3 separate regions of the Homo sapiens genome follow, and regions 2 and 3 are each linked to region 1. The links come from fine-mapping of genetic effects on gene expression. A gene starts in region 1. Each other region holds a variant in brackets. All regions are shown on one strand. Distances are between the middles of the regions.

Evidence for each region. PIP is the estimated chance that this variant, and not a neighbour inherited with it, causes the effect. A credible set is the group of variants that fine-mapping cannot tell apart.
Region 2: its variant is the best candidate, but not a certain one, in a credible set for the expression of NLRP1 in whole blood (INTERVAL, PIP 0.59).
Region 3: its variant is the best candidate, but not a certain one, in a credible set for the expression of NLRP1 in gastroesophageal junction (GTEx, PIP 0.80).

Annotation. Positions count from the first base shown.
Region 1 is chr17:5,579,914-5,588,092 of GRCh38, forward strand. NLRP1 (NLR family pyrin domain containing 1) reads right to left here and starts at 4,596. Exons shown (of 17, transcript NM_033004.4): 1 at 3,774-4,596; 2 at 2,757-2,933; 3 at 1,946-2,149. The coding sequence starts at 4,044. RefSeq lists enhancers at 3,934-5,133, 4,405-4,664, 4,685-4,984.
Region 2 is chr17:5,548,195-5,556,373 of GRCh38, forward strand. NLRP1 (NLR family pyrin domain containing 1) reads right to left here. Exons shown (of 17, transcript NM_033004.4): 5 at 5,192-5,362. LOC105371507 (a long non-coding RNA gene) reads left to right here. Exons shown (of 3, transcript XR_007065589.1): 2 at 5,807-5,949; 3 at 6,312-6,404. Among named protein-coding and RNA genes, the nearest start is that of NLRP1, 32 kb to the right of the region's middle. The variant A/T (reference allele first, on the strand shown) is at 4,247.
Region 3 is chr17:5,663,478-5,671,656 of GRCh38, forward strand. No RefSeq gene overlaps it. Among named protein-coding and RNA genes, the nearest start is that of NLRP1, 83 kb to the left of the region's middle. The variant T/C (reference allele first, on the strand shown) is at 4,060.

The DNA.
Region 1 (8,179 bases):
TGAAGAGTGGGAGAAGGGTAAGGATTAAAAAACTACCGGGCCGGGCGCGGTGGCTCACACCTGTAATCCTAGCACTTTGGGTGGCTGAGGTGGGTGGATCACCTCGGATCAGGAGTTCGAGACCAGCCTGACTAACATGGTGAAACCCCATCTCTACTAAAAATACAAAAAATTAGCAGGGCTTCGTGGCGGGCACCTGTAGTCCCAGCGACTCGGGAGGCTGAGGCAGGAGAATGGCGTGAACCCGGGAGGCAGAGCTTGCAGTGAGTGGAGATCACGCCACTGCACTCCAGCCTGGGTGACCGAGCAAGACTCTGTCTCAAAACAAAACACAACAAAAAACAAAAAACAACAAACAAAAAACAAAAACAAAAACAAACAAAAAACCCAACCTAACAGGTACCATGCTTATTACCTGGGCGACAAGATAATCTGTACACCAAACACTTGTGACACATAACTTACCTATATAACAAACCTGCACATGTGTTTCTGAAACTAAAATAAAAGTTTGTTGTTGTTTTTTTTTTAAGTTCCCTATTTGAAGAATTCCCTTAGAATTTAGAATCAGGGAAAAATGTTATTTCCCTTGCATTGGTCTTTTCTATTGAGTAACAGGTATTGTGTAACCCATTATATTTCCCCTTTTGCCAGTGTTGCTAGAATGCCCACAATTGATGGAAACTTTATTTATAGCAATGAGGTAGTCTTTGTGGTTTTCATACTTGTTTTTTTCACTTTTAAAGTTACTGCATTTTTATGCTTCTATAGATGGCTCTGATATGTCTTTATATTCTTCCTATCTTCCTTCTTTTCTGTTTTTCAGTTTTAATTGTCTTTATTGTTTGGATTTTTTAATTCACAAAATAATTCTGAGAAAAAGTTATCTTTGTGATTCTCAAATATAGAAAGAAACAACTTAAAGTATTAGAATCTTCCTTTCTTGACTTTCTGTTTTCCTTAGTTTAACTCGAATGTTGATCTTTCCTTATATACCCTATCAAGATTTTTAAAACATGAGTTTATTTATTTTTTATTTTAGACTCACGCGGTATATGTGCAGGTTTGTTACATGGCTTCTTTTTTTGAATGGCAAGTGGTGTGAGTAATTAAGTAAACTGATATACTTTGAGCCTAGGCCATATACGACCACAAAATCTACAAGTTCACTCCTTGCTGGGTGCAGAAGAAATCCTTTTAACTTAAAACCTCTCAGATTTCAAAGGAGGCATCCTCCGGCATTGAGAGGCAGCATGGTTCAGTGGTTAAGGAACCTGTGGCATCAGGAGCCTCTGTACCTGTGGCTTTAGTATGACTGTCCTTATTGCCCAGATGAGGGCACTCCCTGTGTAAGAGTTAAAAGTGTGGATTGCTGCGTGAGAGAGAGTGAAGGCTGAATTCCATCTTTGCTAGTACTAACTGTGAGACTATCTTTTTAATCCTTGGTTTTCTCATCTCCAGGGTATGATAATAGCAATATTTATCTCACGGAGTGGTTGTAAAATTTAAGTCCAATGTACACGTAAAGCCCTGGACATGGTCTAACCCAGAGAGTGTCCAGTGAGCACTGATGGGCATGGGACTAGCTGTAGGCCACTTGTGGGGTGAGGAGCTCAGTGGAAATTGAACCCAGCTCTCCTGACCCCAGGCCAGTGCCCTGTCCAGTAAACCAGGTGATGTGTAACCCCATCCAGGCTCCCCTCTCCTTGCTCTGTTGTCCCCCAGATGTGCTGGGTAACACATCTGTATTTTAATGTCCAGGTGCCTCCTGGAAACAGTGCCTTGGACCAGTGGAGAGGCTCCAAGGGTGGGATTTCCTGAGGGAAATTTCAGATGTTTTCCAGAACCTCTGCTTAGCCTGCCAACCTGGTCCCCAGGGGACTCTTTGTCCATACATTTGCCTCTCCCACCTCACCACCCCGCCAGGAGCTCAGTAGGGTCTCACCTGTGTAGTAAATTCCTGACGTTTCATCCAGAGGCCATTGGGTCCCAGGAGCCTCCTGCTCTCTGGGTGCTAGGCTGGGCTGAGGTGGGGATCCCCAGCTCCCCAGCACTGCTGTGGATGTGGGGGCGTTGGGTGACTCCTGGCTTGGAGACTCATGGTCTGGGGAGCTTGGAAGAGCTTGGTAGAGGAGTGAGGCAGAGATTTCTGGGGGGAATGAAAAGAAAAATAACCATTTACTGAACATTTATTTTCTTTTAGGTGCATATATTTTAAACTCTCACAACAGTCCTGAGAGATGGGTCTTAATAATATTATTTTGAAAACCATGTTGAAGTAGAGGGGCAATTTTATTCTCTTAGTAGTGAAGAGAGAAGTCATGTGAGGGAGCTGGCTTGGGCCGAGGACTAAGCCTAGCCTCTTCTTGGGGTCTGTCTGGAAAACAGAGTCCTCCTTGGAACTTCTGGACCACCCTGACCCTAAGGATCTTCAGAGCCCATCAATATTATGAGCTGAGTTCTCGGGCAAGGACCATGTCACGAGTTGGGCACCCAGTTGGGGAAGACTCATTGCCTGACCCACATGGGTCTCAGCTTCCCCATCTGCCACATGGGGAGGGATGCAATCTCAGCACCGGAAGGTCCCTGAAAGATCAATTTCAGGCCTACCTCTCACAGCCCATCCTGGCTCCCCTATCCTTCCTCTGCTGTCCCCCATGTCAGGTCCCCATGCACAGACATGATCCTCTGGGTGGGGCCCACCAGCTGATTCACAGCTCCACCCAGGGCTGTCAGCCTGCCTCAGCAAGCCTCACCTCTCCAGCGGCGTCCAGATGTGTCAGGCAGCTGTCTCAAAACCCTTCTCTCTGAGCCCTGGGTGCACCCCGCCGGCAATTCATGGATCCAGGGCATTAGCACTGCGGTGGAGGTGGGTTGGCTGGGAGACCCCAGGTGGGGTTCACTTGGGCTGTAGGGGAATGAGGGAGAGTGGCCTACAGGAAAGAGACAAAGAGGTTGGAGACACATCAGAGGGGCAGGGGCAAGGTGCCAGGGAACTGAGCTGGTCTCCTCTCTCAACCAAGAGAGGTCAGGATACACCAGTGAACCCGCTGCAGCCCTCTACAACTTCCTCTAGAGGCTTGTCTGAAGAATGATGTTCTTATAGATACTGCTAGGCAAAAAATCCTCATCTAGGATCAGGAAATTTGCATATCTGTCTTGGTCCTGACTATCTCCCTGTGTAAATCACTACTCCTACTGAGCCTCAGCTGTGCTTTATTGGGCCAACGGCATCTGCAACCCAGGGTGGCTAATAGTAATAATAACAGCAGCAGCAGCAGCAGCAACAACAGCAATGGGAGATCTTATTTATTGAGCACTTACTGTATATCAGACTCTGTGCTAAATGTTTAACCTGGATGATCTCTTTTAACCCTCACACAGCCCAGGGAGGCGGGCTCTCACTCTCCCATTTTGCAGACAGAGAAATAGGCAGAGAGCAGTGAAGTGATTGGCCCAGGGTGATAGTGCCAGGACTGGTGATAGTGCCTGACTCCCAAGTCCGTGCTCATAACTACAATGCCAGGCGAGTACCGGGAATGCACTTGAATAGAAGAGGGTGTGGGGCTCTGAGGTGCAGCAAGGGCCCCCCCAGCAAGCCTCCTGGCTCCAGCATAGTCTGGGGCCTGGATCCCCCTTTGAGAGGGCAGTTCCATGTCACTGCTCAGAGGAAGGCCTGGCAGGGAGGGCTCAGTGGTGGGGTCCCAAGAGGGCAGGGCAGGCATGAGGGCCAGGGGATGTCCCGCGGGCAGTGGGGTCCTCTGTCCACTCACCTGCCCCTTCCTGGGCTTGGGCGCACAGTGACCTCAGCCCCATCTGCTCCCAGGTATGGAGGGCTAGGTCCCAGGCCCGCTGCTCCCCATACTGAGCCACCAGGTACGAGGCCACCTCCATGCCACTCGTCTTCTCTGGCTGAGCGGGTGTCTCACCCGAAGAGCTCCTGGAGTGCGCTTTATTGGCGAGCAGAAGCTGGAACTCCTTCAGCTCCTCCTTCTTCAGGAACTCCAAGTAACAGGCCAGGCGGCCCCAGGCTCCGCCAGCCATCTCTGTCCCGGAGTTAAGAGGGTGTCTGGGGGATGTTCCCAGGTGGTGAGGGTATCAGGCAGGCAGAGAACAGTGCTGTCCTTTGCCTTGGCTCTTACCGTCTCTTATTCAGCATTCGGAACCCAGTTTTATAAATCCCAGGGCACCTACAGATAGACGCCGATAGAGGGGGAGTGGTAGGAAAAGCCAGGGGAGGGAGGAGCCCAGAGGGGCCTGCAAGACACTGGAAGAAGTCAGCTGATAGGGAGGTCCTGGGATGGGGTCCAGGGCCAGGCAGGGAGGGTGAGGGTGAGGGGAGATGTGGTGACGGGAGATGGGGTGTGGGCAACGCTCACTGTTCTGTGTTCCTCAGATTCTTCCCTCTCCTGGGTCCTGGACTCCTGAGATCAACCCTTGAGCTGCAAGGCTGAGAAGAGGTGGGGTGGGAGGAGCCGCAGAGCAGGGAATGGGCTTTCAGAACCCAGAGTGGAGCCCCGGGCTGCTGGCTCCCAGGTTTCTTCAGACCTCTCCAGGCCCTGGGGCACCAGCCAGCAAGAACAGCGCCTAGTCAACAAGAGCAGGAAGGAAACGTCACCCAGAGGAAACCCACAAGGGGCGTGGCCAGGGGGTAGGATCAAACCAGGCCTGGGTAGGCCAGACTCAGAGTCACAGATTCAGATGGGCCACATGGCATCTATAGGCGGACCAGGAGCACAGGCCCAGACCAGCTGACGCTGCAGCAGGTACAGGCCCATACTAAACACGGTGTGTGCACCTCCACATGGGCACTCCGCCAGCCCATCATCTAGAGCCTGTCTGCAGAGCCAGGATGCAGACTCTCCGAGCAGTTGTGTCTGCAGCCCAGGCCCAGCCTCTCAGGATGGGTGGGGCCCCCTGTGTCTGCCCGGGCAGCTCCTTATTGGGAAACATTAGAACTGGGCCAGGGAGCATTTTTCCCAGCCTCTCATGGTTTTGGGAGCTTCTTGAGTTGCACTGCATGTCCTGCCATGCTACCAGGGGCACTAAAGCATGTGTCCCAGGCCCAGGGGGCTGTTTGCCTTCTGGGCAGCCCAGCACTTAGCTGGTGAACATTTCCACCTGAAAGCAGAACAGCCCCTTCCTCATTCCTGCAAGCAGGCCTCGGGGAGCCAGGGGCAGACTTCCTCTTTCGTGGAATCTGCAAGATGCCAATGACTTCAGGTTGAGGAATGACATTGCCTACTCATTTGCTGATGTAACACACCACCAGGAATTTCTGGAGATGCTTTGGTTTCACTTGGACTGGCAGAGCCCAGGCTTCAACCCACGGCTTGCTTGGACAAGGACTCCTTATGTGCCTGATTTATTTCTTTGAGCCTCAGTTTGCCCATCTATTAAATGGGACATCATAGGTTTACCAAGAGGCTTCAATTCAGCAAAAGGTCTTAGAGTCTCTCTCTCTTTCCCAGGCTGGAGTGCAGTGGCAAGATCTCGGCTCACTGCAAGCTCCCTCCACCTCCTGGGTTCCAGCGATTCTCCTGCATCAGCCCAGCTTCCTGGGCAGTTGGGATTACAGTCACTCACCACCACGCCTGGCTAATTGTTTTGTATTTTTAGTAGAGATGGGGTTTCACCATGTTAGCCAGTCTGATCCGAGGTGATCCGCCCACTTCGGCCTCCCGAAATGTTGGGATTACAGGTGTGAGCCTCCGTGCCTGGCCTAAATAAATTTTATAAATGTTAGTTTTAAAAAATGGCTAATAAGCACATTGTAGGACATTCTAATATCAGATTGACCAGAAGTGGAAAAGTGCTGTGCTAAAAGTGGGATGATCGGGAGGCTCTGAGCACTCCGTGAAGGACCGTGAGACTCCATGTAGCGGGAGGAATGGCCTGGAGGAGGGCTGTGTGGGCTTTTTTTCCTCCTCACACCAGCCAGTTCTGGCACCAACTCTCTAGACACCAACTGGTGTCCTACAGTGCAATTCTGACACTGACTGCCTGGAGTTGGCATCAAACCTCACAGGTTTAGGGTTTCAGTGAAGAGCTGGCCTCATATCAGATGCCAGTTGCAAATGGGGTGCCCAGACCACTGGCATCTCTGTCTGACTTGGTGACAAATTCAAGGGTTCCCACAGTCCCCGGCAGGTTCAATAATTTGCTGAAATGACTCACAGGACTGAGAAAAGCACTTTATTTATTATTATCGGTTCATGATGGAGGATACGACTCAGGAATAGCCCAACGGAAGAGATGCCGAGGTCAAGGTGTGGGTGGGGGAGGGGCACAGCGCTTCCTTGCCCTCCCGGGCACCCTACTCTCCCTGCCCCTCCCTGCTTCACTAACCTGGAAGCTCTCCAAACCCCAAACAAACAAGACTGTGGGGTTTTCTCGGAGGTTTCACTTCACAGGCATAATTCATTAAATCACTGGCCGCTGGAGATCCACTCAACCTGTTAAATAGATCAGAAACCTGACCCTTCCCACCACGCCCACTGGGGCTGCTGGTCCAGCCTTCAGTCGTCTCTTACTGGGATCACTGTGCTAGCCTTCCACATGTTCTCCACCCATGCTGATGCTTCCCCTTTACTGTCTACTCTCAGTCTAGAAGCCAGAATTATCCACTTAAAGCATAAATTAGGTCAGGTCACTTCTCAGCTCAAAACTTTCCCATACTCCATCTCACTCTGAGTAAAAACCAAAGTCCAACCAAAGGTGTGGTGACTCGTGCCTGTAATCCCAGCACTTTGGGAGGCTGAGGTGGGAGGATCGCTTGAGTCCAGGAGTTCAAGACCAGTCTGGGAAACATGGCAAGACCCTGTCCCTATGACATAATATTAAAAAACTTCCCAAATCCGGCCAGGTACAGTGGCTCATGCCTGTAATCTCAGCACTTTGGGAGGCTGAGGCGGGCAGATCACCTGAGGCCAGGAGTTCAAGACCAGCCTGGCTAACATGGTGAAATCCCATCTCTAATAATTATAATACAAAAAAAATTATCCGGGTGTGGTGGCGCACGCCGTATTCCTTCAGGAGGCTGAGGCAGGAGAACTGCTTGAACCTGGGAGGCAGAGATTGCAGTGAGCCGAGATTGCACCATTGCACTCCAGCCTGGGCGACAAGAGCAAAACACAGTCTCAAACCAAACCAAACCAAACAACAACAACAACAACAACAACTCCCCAAATCTCCCAGAGCCCTCCCAATGGTTCCCGGGGGCTGCATGATCTAGCCCCTGATATCTCTCCGGCATTATATCCTACCCTATCCCCCTCCCTCACTGGATCCTCTTAGTCTTTTCCCTGTTCCTTGAATACACCAAGAATACTCTCACTCCAGGGCCTTTGCACTAGTCTTTCCATTGTCTTGGAATGGTTTCCCCAGATATTCAGAGGTGTGCTATCCAACCTTCTGTAAAGTAGAATTCCTTCATTCCGTGCTTCATTTTTCCGCATGACACTTATTATTGCCTGACGTTACAGACTTGTTTATTTGTTTACCTTCTGTCACCCCCTCCTGCCAATAGGATGTTAGGTCCCTGGAGACAGGACTTGGCTTGTTTTGTTCGCTGTTGTATCCGCTATGCCTAAATCAGTGCCTGGCCCACAATGTCAGCACAATCAATACCACAGACATTGAATGTCTTTTGAACGCTTTCCTTTAATGCTTTCCTTCTTATCCTTCCAAACAGCTACTCACTCTGGCCACTAGATGGCACTCAAGTACTTTCTGAGAATTGAAGCAGCCTCATGGGTTTGGTGGAGAGGACCCACTGGCGCTCTCTGAGCCTGAATTTTTAAAATTATCCCTGTTTCTGGTGCTTTGGGCCTTTGTTTCCTTTCCTTGAGGCATTTTAGGAACACATTAAAACTCACTTTTATTCAAGTCATGCTATTTTCAATTAAAACTTAACTCATGAGGAATATCTGTATGGCCAGTACTCCAGCAGAGTACAGTGAGGCCTTCTCTTTAGGTTCAAATTACTATGACTTGAATCAAGATCTGGATAACTTGAAATCAGCCTCCTTGAAATTCCTCTCCTCCCACCTATTTCTAAGCGTGTCCCAGGCATTGCCTCATGGGGTTCTGAAGTCAGTTCTTGGTTCCCCTCTGATCGACTGGTCTTGACTACCTTGCTGCCGTCCCTTTGGTCTCAGACCCCATTTCTATCCTCCTG
Region 2 (8,179 bases), 32 kb before region 1:
CCTCAACCCTCACACTCACTCCTAGCAAACAACTCAATTCCTATTTCTCAGAGAAAAATGAAGCCATCAGATGGGAACCTCTCAGCTTCTCAGAGTGAAACCTATGTTCCTACCTCTCTCTTCCCTGTCCTCATCTCCCCTCCTGTTACAGTAAAGGAGACATTTCCTCCCTCTTCCAAGGCCAATCTTTCTCCTCCCTCCTCCCTCTGAGGATAGAGAGCCATCAATGACTCCTTCTCCTTCTTGTGTCTTTTATCACTCCTCCTCACTGATTCTCAAACTGAGATCTTTTCCTTCTTAAATGCAAGTAAGCAGATGGACAGACACACACATTTACTCAGCCCACCATCCCCTCTGCTTTAGTGCTTTCCTCCTTTTCACTATCAAAGTCTTTGAAGAAAGTATATTTGTGGTCTCATTTTTTACCTCCTTCTCCCTCTTTAATGCACTCCAGTCTGCATTCTCGCCTCTTCATGCCACATAAGGTACTTCTGCTGAGGTTATTCATGACTTTCCTATCACTAATCCAATGGACAAATTTCAGTCCTTATCTTGACCTCCCAGCAGCAGTAGTCCCTGCTGACCTCCTTGAGACCCTCTGCTCTGTTGGGTTCCATGACACCTCTCTCTCCTGGTGTCCCTTTCATCTATGTGGCCCCTCCTTCTCAGGCTTGTTTGTTGGCTCTTCTTTGGCCATTAAATACTGGGGTGGGGGTGTTCCCCAGGCTTGACATGCAATCTTATTTTTGCCCGTGAATTTTAGAATCAGCTTGTCCATTTCTGCAAAAATGGCAGCTGGGATTCTGCTAGGGATTGTGTTGAATCTATAGATCAGTTTGGGGGGTATTGTCATTTTAATAATATCAAGTCTTCCAATCTATGAACATGGGACATCTTTTCATTTGTTTAGGTCTTACATAATTTCTTTCAACCATTTTTTGTAGTTCTCTGTATACAAGTTTTCTTTTGTTAAATTTATTGTTTTCCTAATTTAATTTTTGGATTGTTCATTGCTAGTGTATAGCAGCACAACTAATTTTTGTATATTGATCTTGTTTCCTGAAACCTTGCTGAAATCATTAGTTTTTTTTTTTTTTCTTTTTCAACAGGGTCTCCCTTTGTCACCCAGGTTGGAGTGCAGTGGCACAATCTCAGCTCACTGCTACCTCTGCCTACCAGGCTGAAGCGATTCTCCCACCTCAGCCTCCTGAGTAGCTGGGACTGTGGGCGTGTGCCACCACGCCCGGCTAATATTTTGTAGTTTTGGTAGAGACAGGGTTTTGCCGTGTTGCCCTGGCTGGTCTTGAACTCCGGAACTCAAGCAATCCACCCACCTCAGCCTCCCAAAGTGCTGGGATTACAGGGCATGAGCCACCACACCTGGCCCTAATTTTAATATTTGTAGATTCCTTAGGATTTTCTACATACAATGTCATGTCACCTGCAAATAATAGTTTAATTACTTTCTTTTCAATCTGGAAGCTGTTAATTTCATTTTCTTGCTTAATTACTCTGGATGGAACCTTGAGTACAGTGTTGAATAGAAATGGCAAGAACAGACATCTTTGTCTTATTCCTAATCTTAGGGGGAAAGCACTCAGTCATCCACCATTAAGTATAATGTTAGCTGTGGGTTTTTTTACTGGTAACAACTTTATCAGGTTGATAAAGTTCCCTTTTATTTCTAGTTTGCTGAGTGTTTCCAATGTGAAAAGGTGTTGAGGGTTTGTCAAATGCTTTTTTTGTGTCTTTGAGATAATCATTGGTTTGTGTTCTTTATTCTATTAACATCTTGCATTACATTGATCAATTATCCTAGGTTAAACCCAATTTGCATTCTTGGGATAAATCCCATTTGGTCATGGTCTACAATCCTTTTTATATGTTGCCAGTATTTTGTTATGTAATTTTGCATATATATTCATAAAGGATGTTGGCCTGCAGATTTTTTTTTTTCTCTTGTGATGCTTTTGGTTATCTTAGTCTAATTTTGGTATCAGGGTAATATTGGTCTCATAGAACAAATTGGCACGTGTTCTCTTTTCTGCTATTTTTGGAAGAGTTTGAAAATATAAGTGTTAATTCTTCTTTAAATATTTGGTAGAATTCACTAGTAAAGCCATCTGGGCCTGGGCTTTGTTTCATAGAAAGTTTTTAACTTACTAATTCAATATCTCTATTTGTTATAAGTCTATTAAGATTTTGTATTTCTTATTAAGTCAGTTTAGGTATTCGTGTCTTTCTGGAAGTTGGCTCATTTCATCTGGGTTATCTAATTTGTTGGCTTACAATATTTCATAATATTCACTTATAATCCTTTTATTTCTGTAAGTTCAATTGTGATACCCCATCTTTTATTTCTGATTTTAGTAATCTGAATCTTCTTACATTTTAGTTAGTCTAGCTAAAAGGTGTCAAATTTTGTTGGTATTTTTAAAGAACTAACTTTTAGTTTCATTGGTTTTCTGTATTGTTTTCTATTCTCTGTTTCATTTATCTCTACTCTAGTCTTTATTATTTCTTTCCCCCTGCTTGCTTTTGGTTTTGTTTGCTTTTTAAAAAAATTTCTTTACTAACATGAAAGACCTAAGGAAAACAAATTCTTAAGGTGTAAGTTTAGGTTACTTATTTGAGATTTCTCTGCTTCTTCTTTTTCTTCTTCTTCAATAGACTTTATTTTTTAGAGTAGTTTTAGGTTCACAGTAAAATTGAGCAAAAAGTACAGCGAGTTCCCATATACTCCCTGTCCCCACATCCCTCATACAATCTTTCCCACTGCTGACATGCTGTACCACACTAGTATATTGTGGTGACATTTGTTACAATTGATAAACTGACATGGACACATCATCACCCAAAGTCCATAGTTTACATTAGGGGTCACTCTTGGTGGTGTACATTCTATGGATTTTGATTGCTGTAAAATAATATGTATGAACGATTACAGTATATAGAATAGTTTCACTGCCCTAAAACTCTACTGTGCTCTATTAATTCCTCCCTTCCCCCAAGCCCTGGAAACCACTAATCTTTTTTACTATCTCCTTGTTTTTGCCTCTTCCAGAATGTCATATAGTTGGAAGCATACAGCATGTAGCCTTTTTAGATTGGCTTCTTTTAGTAACATGCATTTAAAGTTTCTCCATATCTTTGTGTAGCTTGATAGCTTATTTCTTTTTAGCATTGAATAATAGTCCATTGTCTGTTTGTACCACAATTTATGAGTCCATTCACTTTCTGAAGGGCAGCTTGCTTCCAAGTTTTGGCAATGATGAACAAAGCTGCCATAAACATTCATGTGCAGGTTTTTGTGTGGACAGAGGTATTCAACTCATTTTGGTAAATATCAAGGAATGCGATTGCTGGATCCTATGGTAAAAGTATATTTTGTTTTGTAGAAAACTGCTAGACTGTATTCCAAAGGGGCTGTCTCATTTTGCATTCCCACCAACAATGAATGAGAGTTCCTGTTTTTCCACATCCTCGTCAGCATTTGGTGTTGTCAGTGTTTTGGATTTTGGCCATTCTGATAAGTATGTAGTGGTATCTTTTCTTTTTTTCATTAATTAAAAAAATTTTGAGTAATTTTTTTAGAGATAAGGTCTGTCTCTGTTGCCCAGCTTGAAGTGCAATGGCATAATCACAGCTCACTGCAGTGTTGAACTCCTGGGCTCAAGTGAGACTCCTGTCTCAGCCTCCTAAGTAGTTATGACAACAGGCACACATCATCATTCTCAACTAATTTTTTATTTTATGTTTTTGTAGAGACAGAGTCTCTCTATGTTGCCCAGGCTGGTCTCAAACTCCTGGCCTAAGGCAATTGTCCTGCCTTGGCCTTCCAAAGATTTGGGATTACAGGCATGGGCCATCATGTCTGGCTCTATCTTTCCTTTTTTTTTTTTTTTTTTTTTTTTTTTTTTTAAATAGAAGTATTTATAACTATAAACTTCCCTTTAAGCACTGCATTAGCTGCATCCAATACATTTTGGCATGTTGTGATTTTGTTTTCATCCCTCTCAAAGTGTTTTCTAATTTCCTTTGTGATTTCTTCTTTGACCCTTGGTTATTTAGGAGTGTGTTTTTAAATTTCAGTGTATTTATGAACTCCTCAACTTTCCTTCTATTGTTGATTTCTAATTTCATTTTATCATGGTCAGAGAATATACTTTGTATGATTTCAGTCCTTGCAGATTTGTTGAGATTTGTTTTATGGGGCGATCTTATCTTTGGATAGAGCTTTATTTGA[A/T]ACCTATTTGGCAGGTCCAGTTGGATACCTTGAAAGGATCTTGAAACCAGCAAGCACGAGATCACACTCATGACATTCCACCCCCCAATCACTTTTCTTTTAGTATTCCCCATCTTGATGAAGATGCCACTATCCCATGAGTTGCTTTGGTCAGAAACCTAAAATCATCCTTGATATCTTCCTCTTCCTTTTTTTCCTAAATTCAATCCATTACTGAGCCCAGTTGATTTTACTTTTATAGCTCTCTTACATCTAGCCACTTTGTTCCATATCCATTGCCAATACCATAGTCCAAGCTATGACTATCTGTGACATTTAAAAGTACTATAATTTTCCTTAGTCCAAACTATTACCATCTTTGCAGGGACTACTGCAATTTTCTTACTAATTGGTTTCCCAGCCTCTACTTTTGCACTCTTCCAATCCATTTTTCATGTTGCAGCCAGTTTCTATTTTGAAAATGTACTGATCTTGTCAACCTTCTGCTTAAAATTCCACACCATCAGGAAAAGACCCAAATCCAACATGGTGCACAAGCCTGGCATAGTCTACTTCCTGTTGGTATCTGTAGCCTTATCTCAACCCTTTGCTATCTGCCCTCCAGCCACACTGGCCTGCTTTCAGTTTCTTGACTGCCTCCTCCTGCCTTCTCCACAGAGCCTTTGTACATGCTATTCTCTTTTCCTGGAACTTTTTCCTTCCTGCTTTGCTTAGTTAAATCCTCTGTATTCTTCAGACCTCCCTCAAACCTCACTTCATGAAGGAATTTTTTTTTTTTATGAGCAAAAAATCCTATCTGTGTTTGTTTACTAAAGTCATCCCGGCCAGAGAAGGCCTCAACGAATATTTGATAAATACAAAGACAAATCCCTCAGCCCAGACTCAGCTTCTGCCTTGGATCTCTTCCCCATCCCTGCTTCAGAACAGAACCCAGGCCAGACTCACCGCAGGGTCTCCAGGAGGCAGCGAGGGCGTCTCAGGGTCTTACAAAGACTCTTCACTGCAGAGTGGCTCAGCGAGTTTCCACTTAGGTCCAGCTCCTTCAGGTTTCTGGTGACCTTGAGGACGGAGAAGAGAATCTGCCAATAGGCATCTGTGACTGGGACCCACCTGAACCTGAGGGGGAGAGAGAAGGACAGGAGAGATGTGATGTGTCTGGCAGGGGTTTGAGGTGCCCAGCCCTGCACAACACAGTTGGGCTTTGTCCCCCTGAGCACCAGGCCACAGCGGGTAGTGCCATCTCCAGTACTGACCAGCCCTCCCTGCCTGTCTGCCCGTCACCCAGGGCTAGGTCCCTCTCCTCCATGTGGCTCCTCATTCTACAGCCCTTACCATAGCACACTGAAGTGTTCACCTTGTGTGTCTGTTTCTGCCTCAGTCTGGGAGTTCCTTGAGGGCAGGGACAGACATTTGTCTTTTTTTTTTTTTTTTTAAATCTGCACTGCTCAGCATAGGGCCTGGCCTCGGTGCTGAGCACTGCAGATAAGAAAAAAATTTTTTAAAAAAATTTGACAATTTTAATTTAAAAAAAATTTGACAGCCTTCCTCCCTTTGATGCAGACACACCTGTGTTCCTTTGGCACAGACATTCTGGAGTCCCAGTGCCCAGGAAAGAAGACGGGAGGCAGTAGCAGAGCCTGGGAGAGATGGCCTGAGGATGTTGTGATGGAAGACTGTATATGATCATATGCACTGCTGTCCAGGTTGGCTCACATGGGACCCTATCCCCTTCCCAGGATAACAAGAGGGTCTGCAGGAGAGGGATGGCTGTGGGGAGTGCCCTAGGAGAGAATATTTGCAGCCTGAGGGGAAGAGATGACGGGCTTTGTCTGAGGGTGTTAGAGTAGACTCCGACTCATGGAATTTCCACCCATTTAATCTGTTTTCACACACTACTTTAGTGACCTCATCTACCTCCAAGGCTTCAACTACTCAAATCTCTATTCCAAGTTTCAGACTGAGTTTTCTATTTTCTGGTTGGATATCCCCACCTTGACATCCCAGTAATTCTTTGATCTAATTTGTCCCAACAAGTCCCCAACCTGAATTCATCTTTTCCCCTAAGTCTGCAGAGCCATGTGGGGGCAAGAAGCAGAGGCAAGGAGCTGCCTGCATGTGGGCTCTGCTTCTCTATCCCTCACTCCGTCTCCTCCGCTGCAAAAAGAGGACAGCAATAGCACCTGCTGCAGAGGGGTATGTGAGAATTAAAAGCTACTAAAGAGTATCCCAAAAGTCCTAGAGCAGTTTTAAGTTTTAATAACTGTGAAAGTACAAGTACTACAAACATATAAAAAAAGCCAGCTGAGTGCAGTGGCTCTAGCCTGTAATCCCAGTACTTGAGGAGGTAGAGGCAGGAGGATCGATTGAGCCCAGGAGTTTAAGACCAGCCTGGGCAACATAGTAAGATCCTGTTTCTACAAAAAATAAAAAAAATTAGGCAATGTGGTGGTGTGCACCTGTAGTCCCAGCTACTCAGGAGGCTGAGGCAGGAGAATGGCTTGAACCTGGGAGGCCAAGGTTGCAGTGAGGTATGGTCATGCCACTGCACTATTCCTGGGAGACACAGTGAGATCCCATCACACACACACACACACACACACACACACACACACACACGAAAAAAAGCCATAAATGAAAGCTTACTTGAATTTCTTTTACACTTACTTAGTTTTGTGAAACTTGAAAAATACATTTTAAATTTTTTATTTCCGTTGGCATTTGCCATCCTTAATCAAGGTGACTGAAAAAAAATTAAAAATTTATACTTGAAAATGCACAATGCTTAATCACATGCCAAACACCTGGAAGCTCCCATCCTGTCATCTTCATTTCTTTAATATCTCTGGTTGGTTCTCCTCTTCCTTCACACAGCCCTTGGCCAACCTCCACCCTTTCTTCCTGAACTTTCTTGTTTTTTTTATAGTAGCTTCCTTATTCTTCTCTCTGCCTTGTCTAGCTGATTCAGTTCCTTGAAAATTTCTCCTCCCACTTGTGGCTGAAGCCTCTGACTTTCCCACGGCATTCTCTTAAGGCTCCACTTGCTCCCGCCCATCCCAAACTCTCCTCTCTGGCCTGGTGTTCTTGGTTCCCTTTGCCTATCCCAGCCCCCATCCCCCGGCCAGCCACCATCTGGTCTCTGCCTCTAGCTGCTTGGAACTCTTTGAAGATTTCCCACCTGTCCACTGCTACTTGCAGTACCTGTATCCAGGTCCTTTAAAGCCTACCTCACATTTATAACTATGAACAACTAGAAGCAGCTTAAAATGGCCAAGAACAGGAGAATGGTCAAATCAGCCATGGCACTTTCCCTATGGAATAGCATGTGGTCATTCAAAATGGTGTTGTATCAGACTACTTAAAAATATATAAAGGGCTGGCATGGTGGCTCATGCCTGTGATCCCAGCACTTTGGGAGGCTGAGGCAGAAGGATCATTTGAGGTCAGGAGTTCAAGACCAACCTGGCCAACATGGTGAAACCCCGTTTCTACTAAGACGACAAAAAATTAGCTGGGTGTGGTGGTGCGTGCCTGTAATCCCAGCTACTCTGGAGGCTGAGGCATGAGAATTGCTTGAACCTGGGAGGCAGAGGTTGCAGTGAGCAGAGATCGTGCCACCGCATGCCAGCCTGGTGACAGAGCAAGACTCTGTCTGTCTCTGTCTCTGTCTCTCTCTCTACACACACACACACACACACACACACACACACACACACACACACACATGAAGGGCTGGGCATGGTGGCTCACATCTGTGATCCCAGCACTTTGGGAGGTCAAGGTGAGCAGCTTGCTTGAGCCCAGGAGTTTGAGACCAGCTTGGTCAACACAGTGAAATCTCATCTCTATACAAAAAATATACAAAAATTATCGCTGCATGTTGGCATGCTCCTGTAGTCTCAGCTCCTAGCGGGGCTGAGGTAAGAGGATCCCTTA
Region 3 (8,179 bases), 84 kb after region 1:
GCAGATGAGTCACAGATATTTTGGGAAGGGCAAGCATTCAGATTGAAGGATGAGGAGTATGGTAGACAGAATAATGGCCCCCAAAGATGTCCACATCCTCACCCTCGGAACCCGTGAGGATGGCAAAAGCGACTTTCCGGATATGATTAAGTTAAGGACCTCAGGATGAGAGCGTCCTGGCTTATCCAGGTGGTCCTAATGTAATTATAAAGGTCCCTGTAAGAGGGAGGCAAAGGTTCAGCATCAGAGAGGAGATGCGATGACGGAGGCAGAGGCTCCAGTGAGGAGCTTTGAAGGCGGAGGCAGGGGCCATGAGCCAAGGAATTCAGGCAGTATCTATAAGGCTGAAGAAACAAGGAAACGAATTCTCCCCTACAACTATCAGAAGGAGTGCAGCTCTGCTGACACTTATTTTAGCCTGTAAGATCTGCTTTGGATTTCTGACCTCCAGAACTATAATCTGTCTGTGTTATTTTAAACCACTAAGTTATAGCAGCAATAAGGAACTAACATGAGAAATCAGGAGAGCTCAGGCATGGGGTGGGTGGGTGCCTGGGCTCTCCAGGCACACCAAGAGACTCACACCGTAGGCAGAATGTGGAGACAGATCTGGGAGCTGGAAAGGGCCTCAGAAGTAGGCTGGGATCAGAACAATGCTAGAGGTCTCTGGAGGATGGAGCTCAACAATGTTTCAGAGGTGCTAAGATCCTAGACACAAAGATAGGGGCTCAGGTATGAGGGACTAAGACTTGAGGATGGGGTACAGGGTGTGGCTGTGGAGAAAAACAAAGGAAGGGCCTGCTTCTGATAAGCTCAGCTTGGTGCTGAGCTGTGTGCTCTGAGATTTGCTCTCCTTACCTGCAAAACGGAGGTCTTGGCTAGCTCAGAGGTCACAGACTGGAGGCTATAGGCTTGATACAGCTCACAGACGTGTTTAGCCTATACTGGGTTTTTAAAAACATTTGGATGGGTAAGCCATGGTGGCTCCCGCCTGTAGTCCCAGCACTTTGGGAGGTTGAGGTGGGAAGATGACTTGAGGCCAGGGGTTCCAGACTAGCCTGGTCAACATAGCAAGCCCCTTTCTCTATCAAAAACAAAAACAAGGCCGGGCAAGGTGGCTCATGCCTGTAATCCCAGCACTTTGGGAAGCCAAGGTGGGTGGATCACCTGAGGTCAGGAGTTCGAGACCTGCCTGACCAACATGGTGAAACCCCATCTCTATGAAATATGCAAAAATTAGCCAGGAGTGGTGGTGCACACCTGTAGATCCAGCTACTTGGGAGGCTGAGGCACGGGAATCACTTGAACCCAGGAGGCGGAGGTTGCAGTGAGCCGAGATCACGCCACTGCACTCCAACCTGGGCAACAGAGTGAGCCTCTGTCTCAAAAACAAAACAAAACAAAACAAAAACAACAACAAAAGACATTTGGACCGGTATTTTAAAATCATTAGATTTCACATATAAATCCGATGTTCTGAATTTTATCTTAAAATATAGGGTGATCCGGCAACAATTGGACCTATACTCCTGCCTGTTTCAGAGCCTCCTAGGCAATTCCAGCTGGAGGTGGAACGTTCCCAGGTGAGGTAGGCCCTGCAGACGTGGGAGTGGGGTCACTGTCACCCAAAAGGAGGAGCATCGGCTTTTTAGACCGGGGCCTGAGGAGCCCCCAAGGGAAGTGTCTGAACCACGCAGGTTCCTTACAGTCTTGAGCTCAGATTTAACTTGACAAGTGCTGAGTGCAGCGGGACTCTTAGCCACATTGATCCGGACACTAAACTCCTATTAATGTAGTCAGAGAAAGCAATTGCTTTCTTGGCAGCCACATGCGGCTGGCGGCTCGCACAGACCTTGCAGTCAGATGGAGACACCAGGACCGCCCCGTGGGAGCAGCTGTGAGCTAAGACTTCCGCGCCTGGGTATCCAGCCTCAGTGCAGGCTTCACGCTCTGGCTCTGTCAGTGTGGACTGTCACTTTAGCTGCCAGCCTTTCCTGTGAGTGGCATCCTCAGCTGTCCCCTGCACTGGCCCCTTGGCATTTTCCTAACCCCTACACAAAAGGGCAGCGGGATCTTGGCTAGGGGGCTCAGAGCAATGCTCCCTGCTCCCCAATTTGGCCTTCCCTGCTAACATCCCCTTCCCTGGTGTTCTGACCCTTTTTGGCTTCCTCCCTCAGCACATGCAGGCCCCCCCCCCATGCTCTGTTTTGGATGTGTCTTCCTGGTGCTCCCTCCTCAGGCTCACTCCAGTGGACATGATTTTGCTTCTGACCTCTGGACTTATGCACCTTTGCCAGGCCCAACAGCTTCTCCCTTTTTCGTGCTATGTGGGGACTGTGACGGCCAGGACCCCTTCCCAGCCCCCGCAGCGCCCCCCTCAGTCACCAAAGTCTGTCTTTTTTACTCTCTGATATCTTCGAAGTTGTCCATTTCTTTCACCCCCAGTGCCATGCGTGTCCAGCCCAATCTCTCACCTGGCTGCTCCCAGAGCCTCTGACCTGTACTCCCTGCCTCCAGGCTTTTCGCCTCCAGCCCACTTTCCAACAGCAGCCGGAGAGCTCTCTTCAGAGGACAAACCTGACCATGGCAACTCTGTCCAGAATCCTTCAATGCATCGTTCCGGATTTCAAGATGAAGCCTGAGTTCCAGGCAGTTCCAGACTTGGCCCCGGTTCTCTCCTCCAGCCTCATGGCTCCCCGCATCCATCCCCCAGTCCATGTTCTGGCCATACTGGTCCATTTGCAGCACGCTTGCTTCCTCTGAAACTTGGACTTTTGCACACGTTATCCTTTTTGGCAGGAACCCGCTCTTACCCCACCCCCTTCCTCTGGCTAACTCACCTTTCACATATGATTATGGCTTCCCTGCCACCCCACCACCCCCAGGATAGGCTTCCATCTCTTGCTCTTATGAGACCCACCTCCAGTCATGGCACTGGGTAACTGGCCTCCCTCAGTGATTACTGCTTACTGAGTTATCTGTCTTTCCCACCAGACTATAAACTCCTTCAAGGCGGGAACTCCATCTGTTTTGCACCCCATTATACCCCCACCGCCTGGTGTAAGGCTGGGAGTAGCAAGTGCTTGATGAATGTATATCGAATGAATGAATGATAGTGATGATGAAGCCAAGAGCAAAGAAAGCCCACGCAGGCAGAGACTTTTCTCCAGGTTCATCCAGAATCATCTTTTTTTTTTTTTTTTTTGAGATGGAATTTCTCTCTTGTCGTCCAGGCTGGAGTGCAATGGTGCAATGTTGGCTCACTGAAACCTCTGCCTCCCGGGTTCAAGCAATTCTCCTGCCTCAACCTCCCAAGTAGCTGGGATTACAGGCGCCTGCCATCACGCCCAGCTAATTTTTGTATTTTTAGTAGAGATGGGGTTTCACCATGTTGCCCAGGCTGGTCTCGAACTCCTGACCTCAGGTAATCCACCCGCCTCAGCATCCCAAAGTGCTGGGATTACAGACGTGAGCCACCGCTTCTGGCCCAGAGTCATCTTTAATTGCCTCTCTCTAGCCACACCCCATGGAAGTTGAATTAGCCGGGTGAGCAAGGAATCGACTGTAGGAATCTTCCCAACTCTAGCAACACCTAGTCCCCATGTCTCCACCTTGTCCACAAAGATGACGTGGGAGATGTTGCCAACCGCCTCACTGAATCAAGTGACATTCCTTCCACCAGAACAGGAAATGAGCTTGATTTGGTATAACAATTGTCAGAAAACACTGAGTTTGTCTGATTCCAGAGATCAGCTTTCTTAACCACTGTGCCATCCTACCTGAAAGACAACTGGGAATCAGTCTGGAGCTCACTTCCCACAGGACGGGCTAAAGAGTGGTGGTCCAACAGGCAAAGATCTGAACTCTAGTCCTCGTTCTGCCTTAGGGAGCTGTGTGACTTGGGGCAAATCTCTAACCTTCTCTGGGCTTTCATTTCATGGGACCTAATCCACAGGGCTGTGGTAAGGACTCATCTTTCATTACTTCAGGGCTTATAAAGGGCAGGGACCAGGCTTCTCTATGTGGACTTCCCCATTGCTCAGCACAGGGCCTGGCCCA[T/C]CAATAGCCCTGAAAATATGATCATTAAATTGAAAAGCTCTTTGCGGACCCCTTTCTAAAATTCTTCATCAGTCAAGCACTTGAGCCGGGCAGGGAAACCCACTCCATCCTCACTAACTGGACAATTGCCTCATGTCACTGATGGGTGTTATTTTGTCCTCTGCTATAATGCATGTCTTTTAAAAAGAAAATTAGGATCTGTCAAGCACCATTACACAATGAACCCAGCAAAGGGGCAGCCAAGCTTCCAGCCAAGCAGAGGCCGCAAGTGGTATGGGGAGCAGTTGTCTAGAGCTGCTCATTGCCGAGGCAATACTCCACATGGAGGGTTCCCTGCTTGGGAAGTCTCCTTCTCCTCCCAGGTCCCTGCCCCAGAGAGGGGAGTGGGGAGAGTTTGATGTAATTTTCTGGCCTGAGAAGCAAAATCCGCTTCTGAAGGCACTCAGGCTTCCATGCCTGCCCACGCACTGGAGATTTGTACCAATGAGAAGGACCACAAGGAAGGCTGGAGCTGGGCACCCTAGTAGGGACGGCTCCTCCTAGTGTTCAGTTTGCACCTGGTAATGTTTTGGCACCATCCGTCTACTACTAAGAGGGAGGTCTTTTTTCTAGATGAGGAAACTGAAGCTTGGAAAGAGTCCAGCCCAGAACGAGGTGAGTGTGACCCCAAAGCCTGTGTTCTTTGCAGACATTGTGCTGCCTGCCTTCCCCTGAGGTTCTGTGGACCACGGATGGGGGAAGGCTAGCAACAGAGTGAGTATTTGGGATCCTATGCACATCGGGAGGAGCATAGCCTAGGACTTCCATGGGAAGACACGTTTTTTATTTCTCACTGCGTTGGTTGGTTGCTGTCAGGAGCCACCTTTTGCTTGACCCGCTCAGATGTGACAGACAGTCCTGTGGTGGAGGTTGAAGGATGGCACTTTAGACGCTTCATTCTCAGTGGCCTCCTAAGCAACTGAGAGGTCCTCACCCACCCATGCTGCTTCCAGGGCTGGCCCTGCCCTACACTTTGCTATTCCTTGTTTTTTCCTCCTAGTCTTCTCCCTCGTCTTCCTTCCCCTCCTCCTCTTACTTCTCCTCCTCTTTCTCTTTCTCCTCTTACTCCTCCTCCTCCCTTCCTCCTCTTTCTTCTCTTCTTCCTCCTACTCCTCCTCTTTCCTTTTCTCTTTCCTTGCCCTCTTCTTCCTTTTTCTTCCTTCTCCTTCATCCTCTTCTTCCTCTCCTCTTCCTTTCCTTTTTTCCTCTGTCCTCCTCCTTCTCCTCTCCTCCTCCTTCCTTCCTTCTCCCTCCTCTTCTCTTTCTCTTCTTCCTCTTCTCTCTTCTCCATCTTTCCTCTCCTTCACCTCCTCTCTTTCTCCTTCCTCTCCTCCCTCCTGCTCCTCCTCGCTCCTCCTCCCTCAGACAGTGCTCACAGCTTCTCACCTGCCAGCACATAGAACTGGGAGAAACCAGAGCCAGCCTCACATGTGGGGGAATAAATGCTGAGCTGTGACAATCCTGCCTGCCTCAGAAAGAGAGGTTTTATATAGTTTTTGGCATTTACAAATCCTTTGTGAAAAGGTCACCCTGTTCTTGGAATCTTTTATTAATGCTGAAGACTGGCCCCGGAAATGTCATGTCTTTTTACCATGATATTTACTCAAAAAAGTATGACTAACCATCGGAAATTCTACGAGTGGCTCGACCCAGGTCAGGCTGGGTGAACCTGTGGGGGACAAATGGATGCTGAGCTCGCTGGTGTTGTTGGGCTGCACCTTCCCCTGAGCCCTGAGTGAAGGGAAGGAGGAGCATGCCAGGGTCAGGTACCTGGGCACCCATCTGCTCTGCATGGCTCTCTGCTGTCCCAGTTCCTCAGAGGCTCCAGAGCACAGACCAGCACTCCAAGCTGGAAGGGACCTTGTGTGTACAACATCCCAACTCATCATTTTACAGAAGTGGAGACAGGCTCAGGGAGGGGAAGACACCTGCAGGGTCACCCAGCAAGTCAGGGACAAAGCAGAGACTAGAGATCAGGTGTCCCGATGTCCAAGTCAGTGGCCAGTCCTGACTCTCACTCCTGCGCTGAGCCTGAGAAGAGGATGGGGGCTGGGTGCGGTGGCTCACGCTAGTAATCCCAGCACTTTGGGAGGCCGAGGCAGGCAGATCACCTGAGGTCAGGAGTTTGAGACCAGCCTGGCCAACATGGTGAAACCTGGTCTCTACTAAAAACACAAAAATTAGCTGGGCATGGTGGCTCACGCCTGTAATCCCAGCTACTTGGGAGGCTGAGGCAGGAGAACCGCTTGAACTCAGGAGGTAGAGGTTGCAATGAGCTGAGATTGTACCACTGTACTCCAGCCTTGGCCACAGAGTGAGACTCCGTCTCAAAAAAAAAAAAAAAAAAAAAAAAGGGAGGGGATGGGAAGTCCTTCCTGTCCCTGCATCAGAGTCCAAGGCAGTAGGGTGCAGAGTGAGACATGGGCGTATCCCTCACCTGCCTCCCTTCCATCAGCCTGGAATTCCCTTTATGTCATCCTACTCCAGGTTACATAGCACAGAAGCCTTTTCTCAAAACCCTGTTGCCTTTCTAGACAGTCCTGGAGGGGCTTGGGACAGGAAGAGGTTAGAGCCTACCTTATTGTCTTAGTCAGCTCAGGCTGCCCCAACAAAATATCACAGATCGTGTGGCTTCAACAATAAACACTTATTTTCTCACATCTCTGGAGGCTGGAAGGCTGAGATCAAGGTGCCATCATGGCTGGGTTCTGGTGAGGGCTCTCTTCCAGGCTTGCAGATGGCTGCCTTCTGCATCCTCACCTGGCCTTTTCTTTGTGTGCATGCAGGGTGAAGGCGAGAGTGAGGAAGCTCTCTCCTTAAAAGGACACCAATCCCATCATGAGGGTGCCATCTTCATCACCTCATTTAACCGTAATCACTTTCCAAAGGCCCCACCACCAAATACCATCCCATTGGGGGTTAGGGCTCCAACATATGAGTTTTAGGGGGACACAAGCCTTCAGTTTATAGCACCTACAATTTCACAGGGATCATTTGGAGAGGGTGAAACAATGGATGTGAAATTAGTGTGTAAACTGTAGCTTGCACACCCGTATACATTTTTATTATTATTATTTTTGGGAGGAAACCAGAGAAGAAAGGAGAGCACAATGCAGCCTGCTCAGCTTCTCAGAGGAGCTCGTTTGGAGAGGAGAATGAGCCTCAGGCAAGGAGACCCTGGGCAGGGGGAATGGAGAAGACATCTGCTGTTGCTCCCCAGCACTCACTCCCTTCCTTGGCCACATTGTCCTCCAGCCTCATTTCAATGGTCTGAATGAATCATGAGGCCAGGGCCCCAGCCAATCACCACATCCCATTTCCCTGGCCACAGTGATTGCTTCAGCAGTGGGAGCTTGACCCTTAGATGTCTAATTAGTGTTTTAAGGACTTTTGTTGGGACTCACTCTTCTGTGGTGGATTTGAACCTGGAAGGATAGTATCTCAAGAGCTGCTGCTACAGCCACTTGTGGCCAGAGGGGCCATCTGGCTGTGCCCACTGGAAGACATAGGTGAGAATGCACATTCTTATGCAGTCTTGGTCTTCATGAGGGCAGGTGTTTGGTTTGTATGCCAAGTACAGTGCCTGGAACATAGAAGTACTGATAAATATTTGTTGAATAATACATATTTGAGACCCTGGATACGGCCATGCCTGGAGCTAGCTCTTTCTGAACTCCTTCTTTTACTTAAGCCAGCTTGATCACTTGCCCCTAAACAGCCTTAAGTCAAACAGGGCATGAGGTTAAAGGCAAGAGCCTGGAGAGGTTAGGGCGGGGTAAGGGGCTGCTCTAAGGCTGTGCAAAGCCCAGGGCAAGGGGCTGCTGTGGACTGGTCTAGCTTTGGCTGTGTAGACGCAGCCTGAAATTCAGCGTGGGGGTCTCTGTGCATGAGGGCTCCTGGTCATGCACTGGGCACAAGGAGGCCTTTTTGCCCTTTGAAGGAAATACAAGGTCCCAGTGCCCCCTACCTGAGGTGGCCCTGCTCTGGTAGCTGCAGAAGAATCATTGGTGCAGAAATCAAACCCTGCCATGGCTTAGGCCTCAGACTCTGCCATGAAAAAACTCCCTTGGCCATTAGGGTG